Regions from separate parts of the Homo sapiens genome. Here all the other regions are reported to be linked to region 3. The links are microRNA targets in miRTarBase. Many come from high-throughput screens and were not tested one by one. Region 3 holds a microRNA gene; each other region holds the end of a gene's coding sequence. Distances are from middle to middle.
The links. Region 3 holds the annotated microRNA hsa-miR-6801-5p (UGGUCAGAGGCAGCAGGAAAUGA, at 4,646-4,668, opposite strand). A microRNA usually pairs through its seed, bases 2 to 8, with sites in the 3' UTR of a target mRNA and lowers its output. Matches are read on the target gene's strand: a 7mer-m8 pairs with bases 2 to 8, a 7mer-A1 pairs with bases 2 to 7 and ends in A, and an 8mer does both.

Region 1: the mRNA of UBAP2 is a reported target of hsa-miR-6801-5p. Seed matches in the 3' UTR shown: 7mer-A1 at 5,876-5,882.
Region 2: miRTarBase lists SERTAD1 as a target of hsa-miR-6801-5p. Seed matches in the 3' UTR shown: 7mer-m8 at 1,392-1,398.

What each region holds. Positions count from the first base shown.
Region 1 is chr9:33,915,986-33,922,985 of GRCh38, forward strand. UBAP2 (ubiquitin associated protein 2) reads right to left here. Exons shown (of 29, transcript NM_001370062.2): 27 at 6,981-7,000; 28 at 6,702-6,893; 29 at 5,708-6,614. The coding sequence ends at 6,519. UBE2R2 (ubiquitin conjugating enzyme E2 R2) reads left to right here. Exons shown (of 5, transcript NM_017811.4): 5 at 1,033-4,414. The coding sequence ends at 1,252. Among named protein-coding and RNA genes, the nearest start is that of SNORD121B, 15 kb to the right of the region's middle.
Region 2 is chr19:40,416,331-40,423,330 of GRCh38, reverse strand. It overlaps SERTAD1 (SERTA domain containing 1), which reads left to right. Exons shown (of 2, transcript NM_013376.4): 2 at 1-1,742. The coding sequence ends at 495. Among named protein-coding and RNA genes, the nearest start is that of SERTAD1, 6.2 kb to the left of the region's middle. RefSeq lists a silencer at 1,973-2,062 and enhancers at 2,353-2,472, 2,138-2,638.
Region 3 is chr19:52,218,910-52,226,692 of GRCh38, reverse strand. It overlaps MIR6801 (microRNA 6801), which reads right to left and starts at 4,673; the gene lies at 4,595-4,673. It overlaps PPP2R1A (protein phosphatase 2 scaffold subunit Aalpha), which reads right to left. Exons shown (of 15, transcript NM_014225.6): 10 at 6,829-7,002; 11 at 6,444-6,504; 12 at 5,560-5,714; 13 at 4,452-4,594; 14 at 885-976; 15 at 1-728. The coding sequence ends at 712. RefSeq lists an enhancer at 3,934-5,133.

The DNA.
Region 1 (7,000 bases), not on the chromosome of region 3:
GTGTGTCCGAGATGCCAAAAAAAGACCAGGGTGAATGTGTTGAAGGGCTGGAGAAAATACAAGAGTGGGTCATGTGGCCGGGTGCAGTGGCTCATGCCTGTAATCCCAACACTTTGGGAAGCCGAGGTGGGCAGATCATGAGGCCAGGAGTTCGAGACCAGCCTGGCCAACATGGTGAAACCCCATCTCTACTAAAAATACAAAATTTAGCCCGGTGGGGTGGCGGGAGCCTGTAATCTCAGCTACTTGGGAGGCTGAGGCAGGAGAATTGCTTGAACCTGGGAGATGGAGGTTGCAGTGGGCCGAGATCACGCCGCTGCACTCCAGCCTGGGTGACAGAGCAAGACTCCGTCTTGGGTGGGGAAGAGTGGGTCGTGCAAGACACTGGAATCTGGCATAGGCATTTGAATTTTACTGTCAGTGAAAATTAAGAGGATAATTAAATTAAGAATTGTTGGGGCACTTGAGTTTGGTGGTGAGGTGACTAGGCCAAAACCCTAGCCAATCCCCTAAGCACCCCACCCCACATTAAACCAGAGTGGGACGTTTTATTCACATATGCAACCTTTATGATCTAGCCCCAAGAAACTAGGAGGCGTATTAGCCCTTCTATTATCTATTCTTATTCTGGCAGTTATCCCTGTGCTTCACACATGCAAACAACAAAGCATGACATTCCGCCCACTAAGTCAATACCTGTTCTGATTCTTAAGTCGCCGACCTATTGGCCCTTACATGAATCGGAGGACAGCCAGTTGACGAGGTGATTCTGGCTATAATTGATCCACTGCTTTAAACTCCCTTGATATTAACAGTGTATTTCCCCTCCTAAAAAGTCAAAGTTTACTTCAAAATTGTACCCAGTGGGTTGAAAGCATTTGGTGTAGTACAGGGTATCTGTCAGATGCTTTCAGGCAGGTACTGAAGTTTGGAGAGCTGAGTCATAAGTAATATTGATTATTTAAGGCCAATTATAAATCTGTCTTAAAAAAAGACTTACCGTAAACCATTTCTGTGTCAACCTCCCTTCAGGAAACAAGTTTCAGCCACTAAGGCCGAAGCAGAAAAGGATGGAGTGAAGGTCCCCACAACCCTGGCGGAATACTGCATCAAAACTAAAGTGCCTTCCAATGACAACAGCTCAGATTTGCTTTACGACGACTTGTATGATGACGACATTGATGATGAAGATGAGGAGGAGGAAGATGCCGACTGTTATGATGATGATGATTCTGGGAATGAGGAGTCGTGACGTGCTCCTTCAGTGCCCCTGTACTGCCCTGCCATCTCAGGCCAAAGGGAGGGGAGCAAGTGGGGACCTGGCCATGGCCCCTCAGCAAAAACCTATTCACAGCGGGTGGGGAAACACACACAGCTCCTGCTGACTCCCCTTATGGATCTCAGTTTGCTCCTTTTTATGGACCTTTAATGGAGAGAGAGTAACCCTCCACAGAATGTCTGAATTCTTGCATTCTTTACCCTTCCATCACTATATTGATTCTTTTTTTAAAAAATATGAACCCAAACTCCCGCCTCACTTCGTCTCTACAGAATGTTCACAGCAAAACACGTTTGGTCTGTTTTTAGATTCTTGAAGAATTCAATAGTCTTTCAAGATGTTTAATGTGTTTAAAGCTGGGAACCTGTTGGGAGTTCACAAGTGCTGCATATACTGGGTAGCAAAAGAAAATGGAAAAAAACCCACAAAACAAACTTTAAAAAAAAAAAAAAACAAATTTGCCAAGGTTTAGCTGCTCATTTACATTAGTGTGTGTGCATTCGTTCAGCCCCATGGTGGTGAATTCTGTTTCTTTCCTTTCCTAAGGCTGGGACATGGTGGGCATCAGGGACTTTGTGCTAAGCCTGATGAAATGTGCTCCTTCAATCTCCATGAAACCATCGTAACATGGAGGCCTCAGCTGCTCTGAGGAGAGAAATCAGACTTTGTTTTTTGAAATCGATTGGGATCGAAAGCCTGAAATAAATATTCATACTTTCCATAGAACTGAGCACTTGGTTGCTATTTATTTTAAAGGCAGGGTTATTTCCCCCCAGGGAGTGGGGCAAGCGGGGAAGTTGGGATGAGTGCGTGTGGGAGCAAAGAGTTAAAAATCACTATGCTAAGTTTGGTTGATGCTACTGGGGGGAAAAAGTTGAAACTACTGGTGACCACTGTTGGGAGAGGAAACATCTGTTTTATAGATTTAGCATGGCCTTCCCATCAAAAATACACTCGTACCATGACGTTTTGTTTTTGTTTTTTAAGTAGCCACTTTTAATTACTCAGTATTAATCCTAGGTGCATGTGTTAAGATTTCGGTTTTCATCGAGCTGCTTATACTGATAGTGAAAAACTTGGATGTGTGTGAGACGAGTTACCGCCTTCTTCATTGGATGTGATCTGAACTTTTTTTCTCCTTTCAACATACTTAGGCTGTGGAGTGCAAGCAGAATTATGCATAGAAATTGTGGCAGGGCTGAGGGAGTTGACTGCAGGCAGTTTTTAGGCCAGATAAGGCTAGATCTTCCTGCAATGCACTTGCTGCAGCTTTGATTTTCCAGATCTCAATCGTGTTGCTTCAATCAATATTGAGATCCAGCAGCCTTCACCATCCAGGAGACTTCAGAACTTGAAGGTAATTTTTGGTTGTTATGGGGGTGCACCAGATCATAGGAGGGCATTATTTGGAGGAAACCGCTATAATGTAAAATCAGATTTCAGAAGGAAAATGCAGCAAGGACTGACTGTAGTCCTATTTCAGACCCCTGGGCACTAGTGTCAACTCCTCCTTTGGCTCGTAACTCAGAAAGAACCAAAGGGCAGATTAGGGACGGGGCAGGAGGGATCCTAGGATGGCCAGAGTAGGTGACGCTTACTTCCTTAGCTCCTCCTTCCATTCTGATCTCAGGGTTTTCACTCTTCAAACTCCCAAACACATGACTTCTTCCCAGCAGCCCTTCCCGGCCTCTAAAGTTTGGTCCCAGCAGCCCTTCCCAGCCTCTAAAGTTTGGTCTGGTATGAAATGGGACTGTTTAACAAGCAAGGCTCTTAGGGGACACTGTTGAGCCTGGTCCCAGAATCTGTGATCTCCACAGGGCCAGGGTTGCTACTTGCACCCAGAATCTAGTGATTTTAGTCAGATCCATGGAACAGAGCAGCTTCGTAATACATTGTCAAGTTACCTGATTACAAACTCTCATAGATGTTGGAACTACCTTTTTACTCCCCATACTTTGTAAGTAATGCTTCCAGATTAACCTGCAAATCTTGTGGAGCCAAAGCCTCTCACAGTGCTGATTTACCTCCCCCAAAATGCCCCCAAACCCCCATGCAAGTTTACAGCCAGTAGCTTGGTCTTATTCTCTTGGAGCCCTAAAATTAAGCCTTTCATTCCCCTTTGCTAAAGCATCTCACTCCCAGGGCAGCCCCAGCACCCTGGCATTGCGGGAGGTGCTCTGCTGCACAGCTGTTCCATCAGGCCCTATTGGCCTCTGTTAGACATTGACTCAGGGAGCCGGAGCGCCAAGTGGAGGTTGTACCTTTCAGCCCTTTGGGGTGTTAAAAGTGTCAAGGGCTGGGTTTGCCTCTGATGAGTACAATCAGTTCCAGAAGACTGGGTAAGTCTCTTGCTAGCAGGTGGACATTCTGGTATTTTAGACTGACTGAACGAAACCCAGAGGCTGGTTCCAGAGCTCTGTCCCTGAGAACACATCCCTGTGGAAAATACTTGAGTTTGTAATTTTTTTTCCCCCTTCTGGGAGTGGAGGTCTCAGGCTCAATCCGGAACCATGTACGTACAGTTTTGCTTATTATTTGATGTGACATGAACTCAAAATCCTGCATTTTTAGATTCCTTTTAGTTCTAATTGAGGCCTCACTAGATGCTCTTCAGTTCTGTGTATTTTGAGGCTGGGTGGAGAAGTATATGATTCTGCTGTTGATTCTTTCAGTCTTCCCCCCTTCTCCTTTTATCAATCATTCCAGAGTTATTTTCTATTAGTCAAACTTTTTTGTAGAACCTTCTTTCCCTTACCCTGGCAAATTGCTTCTTTACTTGCTGGTTTCCTTACGTTTGGGGCACATGTTGTAAGAAACTGATTGGAAGGGGAAATGTGCAGCTCTCCACTGGAAAGGAACTCTCCACCCCTCCCATCCTGATAAAACAAACAAGGTTTACATTTACAACTAAAAGGATTCAGATGCAATTTTCAACTATTCTGAAACCAGCAGGACACACCTGACTTTAATAGTTTTAGCTGAAATTGTAGATGTTTTGCTTCAGTTTAACTTATGAGAAAAGATTATCTGACGGATTTTGTGTTGACTTCCCCTTTAGTGGTTTATTTTGTCTTTTTCTGCCCATCTGTCTACTAATAAAATGTGAAATAAAATACCTGTATTGCTACTTCCCCATGAAATGACCCTCTTCTTTTTTTACCTTGTGTTAAAGAAAACTAAAAGGTGGTCTCATTATCACTGTTAAGTTTGCAGATTACGCTGGGGCTCAGCTGAAAAATTAGACAAAAACCAAAACTGGGGAATCTGCCTTTCTAACTAACTCACCTCCCTGGTGTATCCCCAGTCCCTTCAAGCTCCTTATAGACGTAGCCATTTGTTAAACTTGATTCTGAAAACGGGAGCTGATACAAGTAGGTCAGTGAAGGATTGAGGGGTGCTCTGCTGCTTTCCTTAGGCAAACATTTTCACTGTCATTTGTTTTCCTAACTTACTGCTGCTAATAGCAGGGATCAGGCAGATCACCCTATTTAATAAAAGTCCTAATTTTACCTGTAGACACTTACCTTTTTTCTAGGTAAGGTCCCAAGCTGTGGGTTAATAGGAGTATCGGTCCCATCTGATGACAGGACCATCGCTCTCAATTGTAGAGGCCAAAAGCAGAAAAAGTAGATTGTGACCCCAGGCTGGTTCTGACACAATCAATCAATCAATCACCTGACTAGCCATTTTATTTCCTCCTTTAACCTGATCTGAAGCAGCGATTTAGGAGTGAAAAGAGAGGCTGTAGCACCTTGGGCAACACTTCTAGGCCCTGAGCTTCCTGCCTGCTGGATTGGAGCACAGTTGTGGTTGGCCAACAGGAGATCTGCCTCCTTCCTATGGCCCTTGGTTACTCCCTGGCTTCTGACCTGACACAAGGTGAATGGTTGGTTGGGCTTTTCTGGAGCAGATATGTAGCCCCGGATCCACCAGCCTACCTCATGACACCCTCACTAGTCACGTGTTCTACCATAGCTTTTGACTGCCAATCAAGATTATGTTCAGTTGATGACAAGCAAAAGACAGGTATACCTGTTCATACTCTCCCTTAAGGCCTAGAACCCTGCTCTCAGTTCTTGGCTTTGCTTCAGATTGTAAAAGTCCACTGAGATTTGGAAAAGAAATTACCCTGCCCTGGTATCCAGTGGACAGGGCTCTGTGGGACACTGCCCTATCCCTAAGTCTCTTAAGGAGCTATAAGAAAAGCCAGGTTAACTTTGATCAACATGGCCTGGGCCCTGTAAGGAGGTTTAGCTGTCCTTACAGCCATTGTGATTTGGGCCAAGAGGGTCCAGTAAAAAGGAAAACCATTTCAAGCCTTTATAGCCTGTGTCAGAAGACTATGACCATGTGGGATCTCCTTTAGCCCTGTGAAGTCCAGGGCTTCTGCCCTGAGCTGCCCTTCAGTCACACCACACAGAGACCATGCATGCTCTCAGAACTTTATTAGGTGGGGATTGGGCAAGAGAAAACCCCTGAAACAGTTGCCCACGTGGTTCAAGACAACTAGAATGGAGATGTGTTGCTTGGAGATACCTTAGATTTTTAAAGGGGAGCTGACTGGCTGAATAACTCAGATTATTTTTTTTTTTTTCATGGTCAGCCAGTCTCTAGTAAGTCTCTAGGGACATGACCAGACCAGAAGCCCCTGTTCTATATGAAGACAAACAGGTGGCCATACTTGGGTGGAGGGATACCGCTGCTATTCCCAGATGAAGATTTGGTGGAAGGAGACCATGACAGATGACAAACGGAACAGTTTCTCAAAAACAGAGGTATGAAGTAATTACACAGGAAAGAAAACAATTTCCAAAGGAGTGAGACAAGTCGTGATTCTTCATTGGTACCTGACCCCTATACCCAAACAGCCTTGAACCAGCCCTTCCAGAGACTGCCCCTAGTGGCCCACTGGGCAGTGCAGGCTGTGAAGAAGACCTGAAGGCAGATGGGGTGGGGGTGCTTATTTTGCTACAGTGGAGAAGGGGCTTGAATGGGGAGGGCAGACCTGGCTAACATCTGCCGCCATCCCCCAACTCCCCCCCAGACTTCTATCACATTTACAAATACATACATAAATACATTACATACAGTAGCCAGTCTGGGAGGCAGACTCCCCACAGAGGCATGGCTGACACATGTCGGGAATTCTAGGAAAGGGCACTGGGCTCCCAAATACGTGCTCGTGTGTTCTCTCCTGCCCAGGATAAGCCTTGCCCCAGCCCACCCCTCTCTTCTGGGTTTAGTTTGTCCAGTATGGAGAGTTGCCGTAGGCAGGTTTGGAGGCTTGAGACTTGGGCTGCAGGGAGCTGGGCTGGCTGCGCTGACCCGAGCCACTCTGAGGAAGAGGAGAAGGGAAGGCTGTCAAGGCTGGAGCAGAACCCCTGGCCCAGAGTAGGGTGGCTGCCTCCATCACTGTACTCACCTGTGCATCCTGCGGAAGGTGGTGGTGCAGCAGCTGTGAGTGGGGCTGCTGGTGGGCTGGCAAGATGTGTAGGAATGGTGGGGGTGCATAGCCAGGGGCCGCTCCCGAGGCCAGGGGCCCAGTGGAGCCCAAGACCGAGGGCAGGCTGAAAGGTGGAGGCGTCCCTGCATGAAATCCCTGCTTGTCAAAAGTCTACAGGGCAAAGAAGACAATGGTGAAGGTCAGGTTGGGCTGTAACCTCTCAAAAACCTATACACCCAACCCACCTTTGTCCCTCACCTGTGTCTTATTGTAGACAG
Region 2 (7,000 bases), 12 Mb from region 3:
ACTCTGCGGCGCATCCAGGCGTCCATGGCACCCGCGGCTGCCCTGCCACCTGTGCCTAGCCCACCTGCAGCCCCCAGTGTGGCTGACAACTTACTGGCAAGCTCGGACGCTGCCCTTTCAGCCTCCATGGCCAGCCTCCTGGAGGACCTCAGCCACATTGAGGGCCTGAGTCAGGCTCCCCAACCCTTGGCAGACGAGGGGCCACCAGGCCGTAGCATCGGGGGAGCAGCGCCCAGCCTGGGTGCCTTGGACCTGCTGGGCCCAGCCACTGGCTGTCTACTGGACGATGGGCTTGAGGGCCTGTTTGAGGATATTGACACCTCTATGTATGACAATGAACTTTGGGCACCAGCCTCTGAGGGCCTCAAACCAGGCCCTGAGGATGGGCCGGGCAAGGAGGAAGCTCCGGAGCTGGACGAGGCCGAATTGGACTACCTCATGGATGTGCTGGTGGGCACACAGGCACTGGAGCGACCGCCGGGGCCAGGGCGCTGAGCCCTCGTGCTGGAATGGTTGTCTGGTATCTGAACTGAGCCTGCTGGCTGGACCAACTGTCCTCGAAAAGACACAGCTGGCTTCCCTAGTACAGAGAACAGGGCTTGGGCCACTTTGGAGAGACAGAATCTAGTCCTGGGCAACTTCACATCCGTCCTCCTGTCTCAGGGCTGGCAGGGGGAGCCTGGAATTACCCCCTAGTGATGGAATGACAGGGTCTGGTGGGGACTGAATTCCCTGGCCCTGGGGTCATAGCTTGGGCTGTTCCTTCTCTGATACGGGAAGAGACCCCAATCAGATTTTTCAAATTAAAGCCAGTCCTGGGAAATCTCAAATCCGTGTGCTGCTTTGTCTCTGGGCAAATGTGAAGGCGAGATAAAAACATCAAACATTTTATTGGGCGTAGGCTGTGTACGAGGCACAGTTTCTAAGCACGTCACTGTGTTAACTCATTTAATCCTATAACAGCCCTACAAGATCGGTAGTATTATCATCCCTATTTTACAGGTGAGAAAACCAAGGTTCCAAGATTATCACTTGAGGTGGGTTTTAAATTATGAACTTTTTTTTTTTTTTTTTTGAGATAGGGTCTCGCTCTGTCACCCAGGTTGAAGTACAGTGGTCTGATCATGGCTCACTACAGCCTCAAACTCCTGGGCTCAAGCGATCCTCCTACCAGGCCACTTTTTTTTTTTCTTTCTTTTTTTTTTAAGACAGATTCTTACTCTGTCGCCCAGGCTGGAGTGCAGTGGCGTGACTTCGGCTCACTGCAACCTCCACCTCCCAGGTTCAAACGATTCTCCTGCCTCGGCCTCCCAATTAGCTGGGACCGACTAATTTTTTATATTTTTTGTAGAGACAGGGTTTCACCGTGTTAGCCAGGATGGTCTTCATCTTCTGACCTCGTGATCTGCCTGCCTCAGCCTCCCAAAGTGCTGGGATTACAGGCGTGAGCCACTGTGCCTGGCCTTTTTTTTTTTTTCTTAAATTTTATTTCTTTTCTTTGCTAGCAGGAAGTCAAGGCAACTTTTTAAAAATGAAAGCAAGTCCTCGCCTGGAGTCTACCTGTATTTATTGAGGAGCGAAGGGGAGATTGCTTTCAGAATGGTCCCGAAATAAAAACACAAAACCTGGACCCTGGACAGATCCTCTCCAAGGAGCCCTGAGAGTCGGCTCTCCAGGAAAATGGGGGAGGAAAGGGGGACAACAGCCCATTTTTAAAAATAAAATTCACTCCTGGTCTTAAATCTCTGGGCAAAGGATAGGGACGCTTGGAGCTGTGTCTGAAATAAAGCCACTAGGCTTGGTAGCTGGACTGCAGAGAGGGAGCTCAGGGCAGGCAGCTGTGCCTTCCTTCTAGAAGAAACCCAGACCCGGACGAGCTGGGGCCACCTGCCCGTGTGCTGGGCCTGGCTGGAGCGCCGGGTGTCAGCGGCCGCCCCCGCGGTCCAGCCGCATTCCAGGCCTGGCTGGGAGGGGCCGCACACTCAGCGGCCTGGCACGGGACCCAGGCTGCGTCCTTCCTGACGGCCGCAGGGACAGGGCGGAGCCTGAGGGGGGGTGCACGGAGGGGAGGGAGTGTCACCGTGAAAACTGCGGGTGCGCATGGAGAGAGGCGCAGGGGGCTGGACGGTGACCCGAGGGGCCAGCGGGGCCTTGAGTGAGGGAAACGCCGCCATCGTGGGGTCCCAGAGCCTCGCTTCTGGCCAGAAGCCTCGGGGAGGCAGAGGCAGGAGTGGAGCTGGGCCAGATGGGGAGCCTGGGTCGGCCCCAGGGGCCGGGAAGGGGCGGGCAGAGTGGCGCTTCCTGGAGGAGCAGAGGAAGTTGTGCCCATTTCTGGAAGTGGATGAGGCGGGCCGCGGAAGCGGGTGAAAATGGCCTGCGGGGAGCTGTCGTCCAGGCTGAGGGTCTTCCAGGCGCCTGACTCCAACCCCGAGTGACTCCAGCCCCGGGCAAATGGGACTCGGACTGCTTTGCCGCAGACTCAAAACTTGGGCGCCTGGGCTGAGCTCAGCACCGCCCCCTGGTGCCCAGTCGGGCTCTGCGGTGCCGCCGTCTTGGGTTCCCCGGACATCTGTCCAGTGGTCGAGGGATCATGAACGCCCTCTGTTTACAACACTCTGCGGGCCTGTTTCTTTCTTTTCTTTTTCTTTTTTTTTTTTTTTTAGAGACGGGGTCTCGCTTTGTCGCCCAGGCTGGAGAGTGCAGTGGCGCGATCATAGCTCACTATAGCCTCGAATTCCTGGGCTTCAGCAATCCTCCCGCGTCAGCCTCCCAATTAGCTGGGGTTACAGGTGCACGCCACCACGCCCAACTGATTTTATTTTTATTCTTATTTTTATTTATTTATTTATTTATTATTTTTTGAGATGGATTCTCGCTCTGTCGCCCAGGCTGGAGTGCAATGGTGCAATCTCGGCTCACTGCAGCCCCTGCCTCCTGGGTTCAAGCAATTCTGCCTCAGCCTCCCGAGTAGCTGGGATTACAGGCGCCTGCCACCATGCCCGGCTAATTTTTTGTATTTTTAGTAGAGACAGAGTTTCACCATGTTCGCCAGGCTAGTCTTGAACTCCTGATATCAAGTGATCCGCCCTGCCTCAGCCTCCCAAAGTGCTGGGATTACAGGCGTGAGCCACCATGCCCGGCCGATTTTTTAAATTTTTTGTAGAGACAGTGTTGCCCTATGTTGTCCAGGCTGGTCTCGAACCCCCAGGCTCAAGCAATCCTTCCACCTCAGCCTCCCAAAGTGCTGGGATTCCCGTGGGCCTGTTTCTTATTCTTTCCTTTCCCCGCTTTTTCAAAGAGATTGGGTCTCACTGTGTTGTCCAGGCTGGAGAGCACTGTCTGTACAGAGGAGTGATCATAGTGCTGTACAGCCTTGAACTCCTAGGCTCAAAGGATCCTCTGGCTTCAGCCCTCAGAGTGGCTGGGACTATAGGCACAAACCACTGTGCCCAGCTAAGGACCTGTTTCTGATGTCTCCGAGGCCCAATATGGGGTGAGCTGATCCTTCCGTCTGCCCCTGTGCCTGCTTTGCCACTGATGGCCCCTCTCCCCAGAGCCTCTAGGTACAGTTGCATAGGTTGTGCACTGCATATAGGCTCCGTATGTAAGGGGCTGCCACTGGTGTTCCAGGTACCCTGCATTTACATATTTATTACAAGTTTCCCAGCAGATGGAGGTCAAGTACCTCCAGGAAGGGGCATGTCTTTTACACAAAAGCACCATATGGGCTACATCAGCCCTGGTCCCGTCTGCCCGGTGCCCTCAGGTTTATGAATGGCTCATGTGTGAGGACCTGCCCCTCTCTCCCCATGTGTCACCCCCAGATGGGTTGTGCAGGCTCCCTGGCTCTGGTGTGCTGCTCCACCCTCAGGCTCAACCCCAGGAGGCCACACCACCTTGGCCAGCAGACTCCAGGGCCCACACCATTCCTAGCTGAGCCGCCAGCCCTGGCACAACTGCCACCTTTCACAGAGCCTCTGTGTATGCTCGCCATGACGCCCCCTAGGCCAGCTTTCCTCCATGGCATTCACAGACCACCCCCAAAACACACACACACACACACACACACACACACACTCTCTCTCTCTCTCTCACACCTGGAAGAGCTGTGACCAGCTATCTTGTCTCTTTTTCCTCCCTCCCTTCTTCCTGTCCTTCATTCAGCAAAAATTTATGAGCACACACCTACTGTGTGCCTATCCCTATGTAAAGGGTAAATCTGACCACATCTCTCCCCTGCCCCTGGGCCCTTATTACCCCACTTCTCTGGGGTCTGAATTCTGTACTTTCCAAGGCTCACCTTCTACCTCTGTCCCTATTCATTAGACACTTATTGAGTGGCCGGGCATGGTGGTTCACGCCTGTAATCCCAGCATTTTGGGAGGCCGAGGCAGGTGGATCACAAGGTCAAGAGATTGAGACCATCCTGGCCAACATGGTGAAACCCCATTTCTACTAAAAATACAAAAATTATCTGGGCAAGGTGGCGGGCCTGTAATCCCAGCTACTCAGGAGGCTGAGGCAGGAGAATCACTTGAACCCGGGAGGCGGAGGTTGCAGTGAGCCGAGATTGTGCTGCTGCACTCCAGCCTGGCGACAGAGCGAGACTCCATCTCAAAAAAACCAAACCAAACAAAATTAAAAAACACTTATTGAGCACCTATGGTATGCAGTCCCGGCACACTTTAGAAATCTAACAGAGATATTATTGAAGCAGTAAGCTGGAGAGAAGAGACTGTTCCTGAAAGCCAGACTGCCTGGGTTTGAACCCCAGCTTTGGCCAGATGCGACGGCTCACGCCTGTAGTCCCAGCTACTCAGGAGGTTGAGGTGAGAAGATCACTTGAGGCCAGGAGTTTGAGGCTGCAATGAGCCATGATTGCACCACTGCACTCCAGCCTGGGTGACAGAACAAGACCCTGTCAGAAAGAAAGAAGGAAGGACGGAAGGAAGGAAGGCAGGAGGGAAGGAAGGAGGGAGGGAAGGAAGGGAGAGAGAGGAAGGAAGGAAGAAAGAAAGGAAAGAGAGAGAAGAAAAAAGGAAGGAAGGGAAAGAAAGAAAGGAAGAAAGAAAAGAAAGAAAGGAAGAAAGAAAGAAAAGAAAGGAAGAAAGAAAAGAAAAGAAAAGAAAAGAAAAGAAAAAAGAGTTACCGCTCTGTGGCTGTGTGACTCTAGGCAAGGTACTTAACTTCTCTGAGCCTCGGGGTCCTCACCTGTAAACTGGAACAGTAACAGTATCTGCCCCAAAGAACTATTGTTCTGGTGGGCAAGGAAACAGCAAGGGTCACTGAGAGAGAGACCCTACAACATTTTCAGGGATCTCTAAGCTGCTGGGTTTGGCTGGAAGGAGGAGGAAAGCAGTAAGGTAAATGACAAGACTGGAAGGGTCCGCAGGGGCCAGGGCATATAGGACCCTGGATGGGGGACTTAACTCTGAAGATGCTGGGGAGTCATGAAGTAAAAGGATCCCTTCACTAGGTGGGTGGCATCGTCGGGGAGGTGACACTGGAGGCCAGGAGCCCAGGATCCCAGGGGTGGAGAATCTGGGGAGGGACGGAGCAGCTGTTGGGAGGGAAGAGGCACTCAGGAGGCCCAGCAGACAGGCTGTGGGACTGACAAGGCCTGGAGGAGGGGTCTCAGACCAGGCTCAGGGCTCTAATCAGGGGACTGGGAGACACTGGGGCCATCCCTGAGATGGCAACTGGGGAGAGAAGCAAGTCTGGGGTTGGGGCTGAGGCCAAGGAGGGACCCAGGGGGTGCAAGAGGCTGGGGAGACACCCAGGGGAAGGCATGGAGCTGCCCGGGCCCTGGGCCGGGAGCTCAGGAGAGAGGACTGGGGTGTGGGGGTGGGCGTGAACGGTGGGATCGAGGGAGACACCAGTGTCCCTTGGCTGGACTGGGTGGGGCGGAGTGGCTAGGCCACGCAGGGCAGGCCAAGGCTCCTGCTTGGCTCAGACTGAGTCTGGAGAGGGTGGTCCCTGAGAAGAAGCGTCCACCTCCTTCCCTAGCCTCACAGGATGTCCTGTGTTTACTGCGGTGGCCACAGCCGGAACCAGGACACTGGGGCCACCCCCAACTTAGCTTCCCGTGGCCACACCCCCTTGGGTGAGGGAAAGCATGACAGAGAGAGAGGGAGAGAGAAACGCACAGACAGAATGAGACAGAAAGAAACTAGGAAAGAGAGACAAAGAATAAGGACAGAGAGAAACAGAAGAACAGAGAGACACAAAGATAGAGACACACAGAGAGACACACCATTCGTGATAAGAATTCACAACAGTCCAGGTGTGGTGACTCATGCCTGTAACCGCAACAGTTTGAGAGGCCAAGGCGGGTGGATTACCTGAGGTCAGGAGTTCAAGACCAGCCTGGCCAACATGGCGAAACCCCCATCTCTGCTAAAAATACAAAATTATTGCTTCTTGGCCTTTTGGCTAAGATCAAGTGTAAAATACAAAAATTAGCTGGGTGTGGTGGTAGGCGCCTGTAATCCCAGCTACTCGGGAGGCTGAGGCAGGAGAATCTCTTGAACCCAGGGGGCGAAGGTTGCAGTGAGCCGAGATTGTGCCACTTTGCTCCAGCCTGGGTGAAAGAGCGAAAACTCTGCCTAAAAAAAAAAAAACAAAAGAAAAATTAAAAAAAAGAAAGAAAATAACTCACAGCAGGCCAGGCACAGTGGCTCATGCCTGTAATGTCAGCACTTTGGGAGGCCAAGGCAGGAGGATCGCTTGAGGCCAGGAGTTTGAGGCCAGCCTGGGCAACATAGTGAGACCCGCATCTCTCAAAAACAAGAAAACAAAAAACTCACAGCAAACTAGGGAAAGAAGCTTCCTTAACCTGATAAAGCGTATCTACAAAACATGGACCGCTAACTTCCTACTTTATGGCAAAAGGTTAAATGCTTTCCCCTAAGACTGAGAACAAGCAAAGATCTCTGCTCTCTGCGACAAGGGAAGAGAGGGGATGTTGTGTACCAGCCTCCCTTTTCTGTTTGACCCTGAG
Region 3 (7,783 bases):
CAGTCTGGTTCCAAGGCACCTGCTCTTAACCCCCCAAATACTCGGCCGACATCTATGAATCTGAACTGCACTACAGGACACCACCCAGAGCACCTCATGGACCCTCTACCCCAAAGGCCAGCAGCACTCCTGGGGGGATCCCCAGAGTATTCTTTCGGGACATAGGGGTATAATGGGTCCTGTAACAAGATCTTCTCCAGAGAAAAGCGCAGATGTTGTGGCTCTGGGGTGGTGCCCCCTCCTCCAAGCTGATGACTAAGGCCAGAGGACCAACTACTTCTAGACCTTTATTTCTCTGTGAAAAGGGGGAAAATAAAAGGAATAAAATAAAAACGGCACAGTTGACACACAAAAAAAAACCAATGATGGGGAGGACGGGAGGTGGAGAAGTAAATGGGGGAGGGGTTCCCATTACAGCAGCAGGATCCAGTGACCCGGGATGCTCACATCTCTCCCTGACGTGGGCGGAGTAGCCCCTTCCTCCCAAGGTCACTGTCCTGTCCAACCCCGTGCTCCCCTAGCCCGTTGGGAGGTGGACAGTGAGACATCTTCCCAGGCTGGGGAGAGGAGGAACCGTGCTGGGGGAAGGGGCCTGGGGTCAGACCATGCACAGGGAGTGACAGCCAAAGGCCCCCCAGTGTCTCCCCAAAGAGGGACTTGTGGGGGTTGGAGGGTGGACACCAGAGGCCAGTGTTTGCTCCTCTTCCAGCATCAGGCGAGAGACAGAACTAGGAAAACAGGAACAGGCAAGAATCAGAACCAGAGCCCTCTCTCTGCCCACAATGCCAAGGTACCTCCCCCTCCCAGAAGCTGCTGCCCACAGGCCCAGTGCCTGTCCTCAAAGTCCACCCTCCTGCTAGGGCTCCGTGCTTTCTAGGTCTTACCAGTCAGAGCCTCCTGGGCAAAGTATTTGACGTCCACATCCTGGTCCTGGGTCAGCTTCTCTAGGATGGGCTTGACTTCACTCTGCAAGGTGCTGGAAAGCGAAAGGAGACAGGGAGAGAGAGGGTGAGCCAGGATGGACTGGGGCAACAGGTGGGCACAGGGCTCTTGGGCAAGAGAGTGTACACAGACACGGATACACCAAACCCAAGGTGGGAGGAGTCTCAAGAATCCAGGGCACACACAGGAATTAGAAATCTCTGATCACTGCACAGGCGGGTGACCATAGTTAATAATAACATTTTGCATATTTCAAAACAGCTATAAGAGAAGATTTTGAATGTTCTCATCACAAAGAAACAGTAAACATTTAAGGTGATAGATATGCTAATTATCCTAATTTGATCATTACACATTTGCACACATTATTGAAACACTACTATACCCCCATAAATATATAAAATTATGAGTCAATTAAAAGTAAAATCAGGCCGGACGTGGTGGCTCACATCTGTAATCCCAGCATTTTGGGAGGCCAAGGTGGGTGGATCATCTGAGGTTGGGAGTTTGAGACCAGCCTGGCCAAACCAACATGGAGAAACCCTGTCCCTACTAAAAACACAAAATTAGCAGGGCGTGGTGGTGCACGCCTGTGATCCCAGCTACTTGGGAGGCTGAGGCAGGAGAATTGCTGGAACCTGGGAGGCGGAGGTTGTGGTGAGCCAAGATTGCATCATTGCACTCCAGCCTGGGCAACAAGAGCGAAACTCCGTCTCAAAAAAAAAAAAAAAAAAAAAAAGGTAAACTCAAGGCCGAGCACGGGGGCTCAAGCCTGTAATCCTAGCACTTTGGGACGCCAAGGTGGGCAGACCACTTGAGGCCAGGAGTTCAAGACCAGCCTGGACAACATGGGAAAACCCCCATCTCTACTCAAAGTACAAAAATTAGCCAAGCATGGTGGTGCACACTTGTAATCCCAGCTACTTGAAAGGCTGAGGCACAAGAACTGCCTGAACCCAGGAGGCAGAGGTTGCAGTGAGCCGAGATCGCACCACTGTACTCCAGTCTGGGCGACAGAGCGAGATTCTGCCTCAAAGGAAAACCAAACAAACTGCAAAAAACCAACCAACCAACCAATTACTTAAAGGTCAGAAGTATGATAAACAAGGACTGGGGCCCCAAACAGGGAGATCAGAGCAGGCTGGGAAAGTGGAACAGAATCTCAGAACCCCCAAGTCTCTGAGGCCCAGCAAATGGGTATCTTTCATTGATTTCACACATATTCACTGAGGCCTACAATGTATTAGGAGTGAATACAGAGCTAAATCACTCTTGATTTCTGCCATGAGGCACCCGGGCCAGGAGGAAGAGACCAAACTGGTACGTAAGAGGGGAGTGGTAAGTGGCCCCAAGGGGAAGTTCCTGGTCCTCCAGGAGCCCAGAGGAGGCATCCACTCTCATCTATGGGGCCCAGGGAAATCCGCCTGCACCAAGAGTCAATTGTTTTGGAAAACGGAGGGGGACTTCGGAGAGAAACTAAAGCTGAGGTTGTGTCCTGGAACAGACAGAAAGAGAAATCTGCAGTTGTGGGTCCCACACTTTCAGTTGACAGTTCCCTGTTCTCCCCAAATAACCACTATTCTTACTTCCATCATCTCGATTCCTTCATTCTGCCTGTTTCTGAACTTGACATAAATGGTGTGTTTTCTTGATTTTGGCTCCTCACTCAACATGGTATCTGTGAGAGTCACCTGTTGCTGCTTATAGCAGGCATTTGTTTCGTCACTGCTGAATAGTTTTCCACTGTTTGAATGAACTAAAATTTATCTACTCTACTGTGGACAGACATGGAGGTTGTTTCCATTTTTACGGCTACTATGAATAAAGCTACCATGAACATTCTTCTGACAGAAACAGCACTCATTTCTCCTGGATAGAGACCCAGGAGTGGAAGGGCTGTTTCACAGGCTGTTTGTATAACAAGCTTCACCAAATTCCACTCCAGATCCACTCCCGTTTTCAGAGTGATCAAACCCTAAATGTACAGCCCCACGTGCAATGGATGAGAGTTCCAGCTCTTCTATGTCTTCACCATTTGCACCACTGAGTCTTTTTTAATGTTGGCTGTTCTGGGAGGCGTGTAGTCATATGTCACTGAGATTTAATTTGCATTTTCCTGAAGGCTAATGATGCTGAACACCCTTGTCATATGCTTACTGGCTATTTGGAGATCCTTTTTCAAGTGCCTATTCAAGTCTTTTTCCCCATCTCTTTCTTGTCTTGCCTGATTTGTAGACAGGTATTGTGGATGAGTCCTTTCTCAGAAACATATATTAAAACATCTTCCTCCAGTCAGTGGCTTGCATTTTACTCTCAAAATGCTGTCTTTTGAGAAACAGCGTTACATTTTACAGAAGGTCAACTTACCCATCACTTCCTCTGGTTTGCTGTTTAACAAATCTGTGCCTACGCTAACTCAAGAAGATATTTTCCTACATTTTCTTCTAGGTCCTTTATTTTTAAAATCTTTCTGGTTCTGGTCTGTCATCTCAAATTAATTTGTTTATGCATTGAGGCGAGCCTTCTTTTATTCCTAAATGGATATCAAATTGACTCAGCTATGTTTTTTAAAAAACATACATTTCTCCACTGAACTGCAGAGATGCCTACTGTTAAACACATGTGGGACTGTTTCTGTACCCTTGATTCCATTCTATTGGGCGATTTAAATATGCTTGTGTTCACATCTATTTTAATTATTGTGGTGTCATAAGTCTTCGTCTCTGGTAGTGTAAATCAGACAACTTTGTTCATTAGAAGTGTCAATTTTCCACTAAAGAACCTGTTAAGATTATTGGGCTTATACTGAATCTAAAGATGAGTTCAGGGAACTGTCCCATCCGTGAATATTATGTAGGTCTGCTTTAATTTTTTTTGAGACAGTCTCGCTCTATCGCCCAGGCTGGAGTGCAGTGGCATGATCTCAGCTCACTGCAACCTCCACCTCCTGGATTCAAGCAATTCTCTTGCCTTCAGCCTCCCAAATAGCTAGGATTACAGGTGAGTGCTACCGCACCGGCTAATTTTTTGTATTTTTACTAGAGACGGGGTTTCGCCATGTTGGCCAGGCTGGTCGTGAACTCCTGACCTCAACTGATCCGCCCACCTTGGTCAGGTCTGCTTTAATTTCTCACATTAGTGTTTTACAGTTTACATTAGAGGTGTTACATACACATCTTTCATTGAATTTATTCCTGGCTATTTGATATTTTTGGTGCAATTATAAATTATACACATACTTACATATAAAACATAAGGTGATTTCATTTTCTAATGACTTGTTGCTAGTATACAGGACTGCCAACCCATCACCCCCTCTTTCTATTTCATGCTGTGATGTTCATTTTACAGTTGAGAAAACACACCTTGAGAAGGGAAGGGAGCCAAGGTCACACAGCAAGCAAGGAGCGCTGCCAGGCCTCTGACCCTGGGCTCTACCTTCAAAGGTCAAAGATTAAGGTGCCCACAAGAAGCCCCTGCCAGTGTGTGGGGGAGTATCCAGACCTCACCTGTTGTCCAGGATGGGCCCTATCTTCTGCAGAGACTTGGCCACATTGAAGCGGACATTGGCAACCGGGTCCCCAGCCATGCGCAGAACCGTGGGTAGCATGTGCTTGGTGGTGATGTCCTGCCCACAGACCTCAGACAGCACCTGGGGGCCAGTGAGTGGCAGGGGTGAGTATGCAAAGCTCCTGGCTAACTCTCATTTCCTGCTGCCTCTGACCAGGCCACTCTGGTGATCATCAGGCCCCACAGAGGCTGAGCAATACGGGTGACTCAGTTAGTGGAGTGAATCTCCCAACTCCACTAACACCATCCTAACACCATGTCCCAGTTTCTCTGTCCTCAGGCTTCCCTTAATTATTCTGGAGATCGACCTTAATTACCAAGCCCTAGGATCCCTCCTTAAAGCAATGCTCTCCAGAGAGTGGCGTGGGAAGAAATGATCAGAACACTTAGTTATATTTATTTTTAAATCCCTTCCTTTCTAGCCCTGTGTATGGTTTACACATAAATAAGTAGTACATGAGATAATTATAATCGTAGGAAAAGCAAATAGACAGGAGCACTTCCTACCTGTAGCATAACTGTTCTAAGCCCTGTGCGTGTATAACCTGATTAATCTTCACGCTCACCAGGCTGTGATTACCAGTATGAATTCTTTACAGTATGAATTATTTACAAATGAGAAGACCAAAGCATCGGTTAGGTAACTATCCAAGGTCCATAGCTAATATATGGCAGTACCAGAATTTAAAACTAGGTCTGACCTAGAGCCCATACACTCACCCAACGCACCACAGATAGAGACACACATTTCTCAGGGAAGGAGAGGGGTGCTCATAAAGCTTGAGATCGCTGCTCCAACAGGTCAAGTCTCCCAGGCCCTGGGTCCCTCACCATCCAAGTCCCCAGTCCCAGAGGCCCTATGACCCTGACCCTGGGAGCCCCACCCCCTTGCCTGCAGTTCCCCAAGGACTCATCTCTGGATAGAAGATGCACTCCATGTCTCCATTCCCAAGCCAGGTGTCTCCCTTGGGGAACCCTCTAGCATCCCTCCTCTCCCACGCGCTCCAGTTCCCTAGGGATGGGCCAGCAGGCAGGTGGAAGGCTCACATTGATGCAGAAGAGCGTAGTCATGCGGTGCAGGTAGTTGGGGTCTCCGGACATGGCCAAGACCTTGGGGATGATTGTGGCATGGGCCCACTCCTTCCCAAACTTTTCCACTAGCTTCTTCAGGTTGCTGGTGGCTGCCTCGCGGATGGCATATACTGCAGAAGGGTGAGGGTGAGAGAGACAGGGATTTGGAGGTGAAGAACTGATGTGGGCAAAATGTAGGTCACACTCACCATGGCTTACAAAGCAGCCCCTAGGTGCCAGGCTGCATGTGAGCCAAAGAGAGAAAAAAGGACTTACTATGTGCTATATCTAGTAACTGTTTTTTTTTATACAGTATCTTTTCAACCACTCCAAGAGGTAGGTTCCACTACTGGCTTCATTTTACAGATGGGCAAACTAAGGCTCTAAGAAGTGATTTGCCTAAATTATGTGGCACTTATTACTTCAAACAGGGCTTCACAGAGATAAATATTACCTTTTATTTTTTACCTCTCTTAGTGTAAACAATGAGCCATTCTCATAATGGCCCCAAGGCACCAGAATAAGAAGTTTCAAAGAATGAGTGTGGGGCTCATTCAAAGACAGCAGGTGACTTGTTTTAGATCTGACAGCCCCAAGGGCAGGATTCAAAACCCTGGTCTGGCTGCTCAGTGGCCCTCTGGCTCTCCACTATACCAGGCAACCCCTGGGTGATCTGTTTCGTCCTCCTCCCACTCAACACTTCTCTAGGACTCTAACAAGCATGCGAGCTGGTCCATACGAGCATCCAGCGGCGTGGGGAGTGACTCTAGCCTCCTCCACTGCCCGCCACAGCCCCAGCCAATCCATCCTGCCTTTCTGGAGCTCCCATCTCCTCTTGCTGCTCCTGTGAAGGTACTCACCATGATCCACAAGCCAGGCCATGCACAAGGAGTTAAGTTTCTCATCAAAGAACTCCACTCCCTACAGGAGAAACCAAGGGTTCCAAGGTAAGCGTTCCAGGAGAGCAAACAGGGGGAGCTGCTAGCCACATCCCATGGAACCTACACCCACCCTAGAAAGACCGGACACTTCTCAACTTTGTCTGAGGTGCTCCTTTCCCTCCTCTCTCTTATTGAATCCAATGCATCTTTTAAGGCCCTATTTCCTGGGTCCCTTCCTTCGACTCCCCAGGCAGTTGTCACAGCCTCCACTAAGCCTTCAAAGCCCCGTTTCCCCATCACAGCCCTGGACATACTGCACCTCCCCTGAGGCAGCACTGCCTGGCCCCCAGGCCTCCTCACTCACCAGCTGTCCAGCCAGGAGGGGCATGTACTCAATGATGGCCAGCCGCACCCGCCACTTGGCGTCCTCAGCCAGCTCCACAATGGCAGGGAGCAGGGACTGGGACAGCTGCCGGATGCCAATCACCTCGTTCACACAGTCCAGGTTAGAGATGATGTTCAGCCGTACCTCAGGGCACTGAGGAGAGGAAAGAAGGATTCTGAGAGAATGCAATGCACACAGCAACCCAGGACAGGATGGAAAGAGCTCAGCTGCATCAACTTTTATGGACATCTCCCGAGGGACTACTCCTGTCCAAGCCCAGCTCCCCGTTCTGGGAACACATTAACGGCACACAAAAAGCAAGCAGCATGGATCACTAACTTAAGCAGATTTTTAAACCTTACAATAGTATCACAAGAAATGTTTATCCATTTTGAAAAGACTTTAAGAATCACAGTAGGAAAATACAGCACCCTGGAAAAAACAGGCAGACATGATTCTTCTAATCCTAGCTCCGCTGCTTGCTAACAAGGGTTCCTTTCTGGGTATCAATCCACAACATGGGAGAAGGGAAGGAAGAAAACTATTTCCTTATTAAAACTATTTTAGTCTAAAAAAATAAATAAATAAAGGAGCACTGAAATGAATCAATAACCAAGTGAACAAGCCTGGCAGGCTTGGGCTGTTGAAACCCTGCACATTCCGAGGATAGGACTGGCCCTTGCCCAGCTCCAGCCCTTGCTGTGTGAGCCTCAAGCTGCTGAACATGTGCATGAGAAGAGAAGGCTCAGAGACTATACCTCACCCATTTAAAAAGACTTATTTTTGGTGCACCAGTAAAAAGGTAGCCTTTTTCATTTAGACAAGTTTATAAATTCTGGTGAGAGTCAAAATGTAAAATATAAAGTTTATAAATCTAAAATGGAAATCTCAAATATAAGTCAGATGAATTCCTCACACCAAGAAAACCATGCTG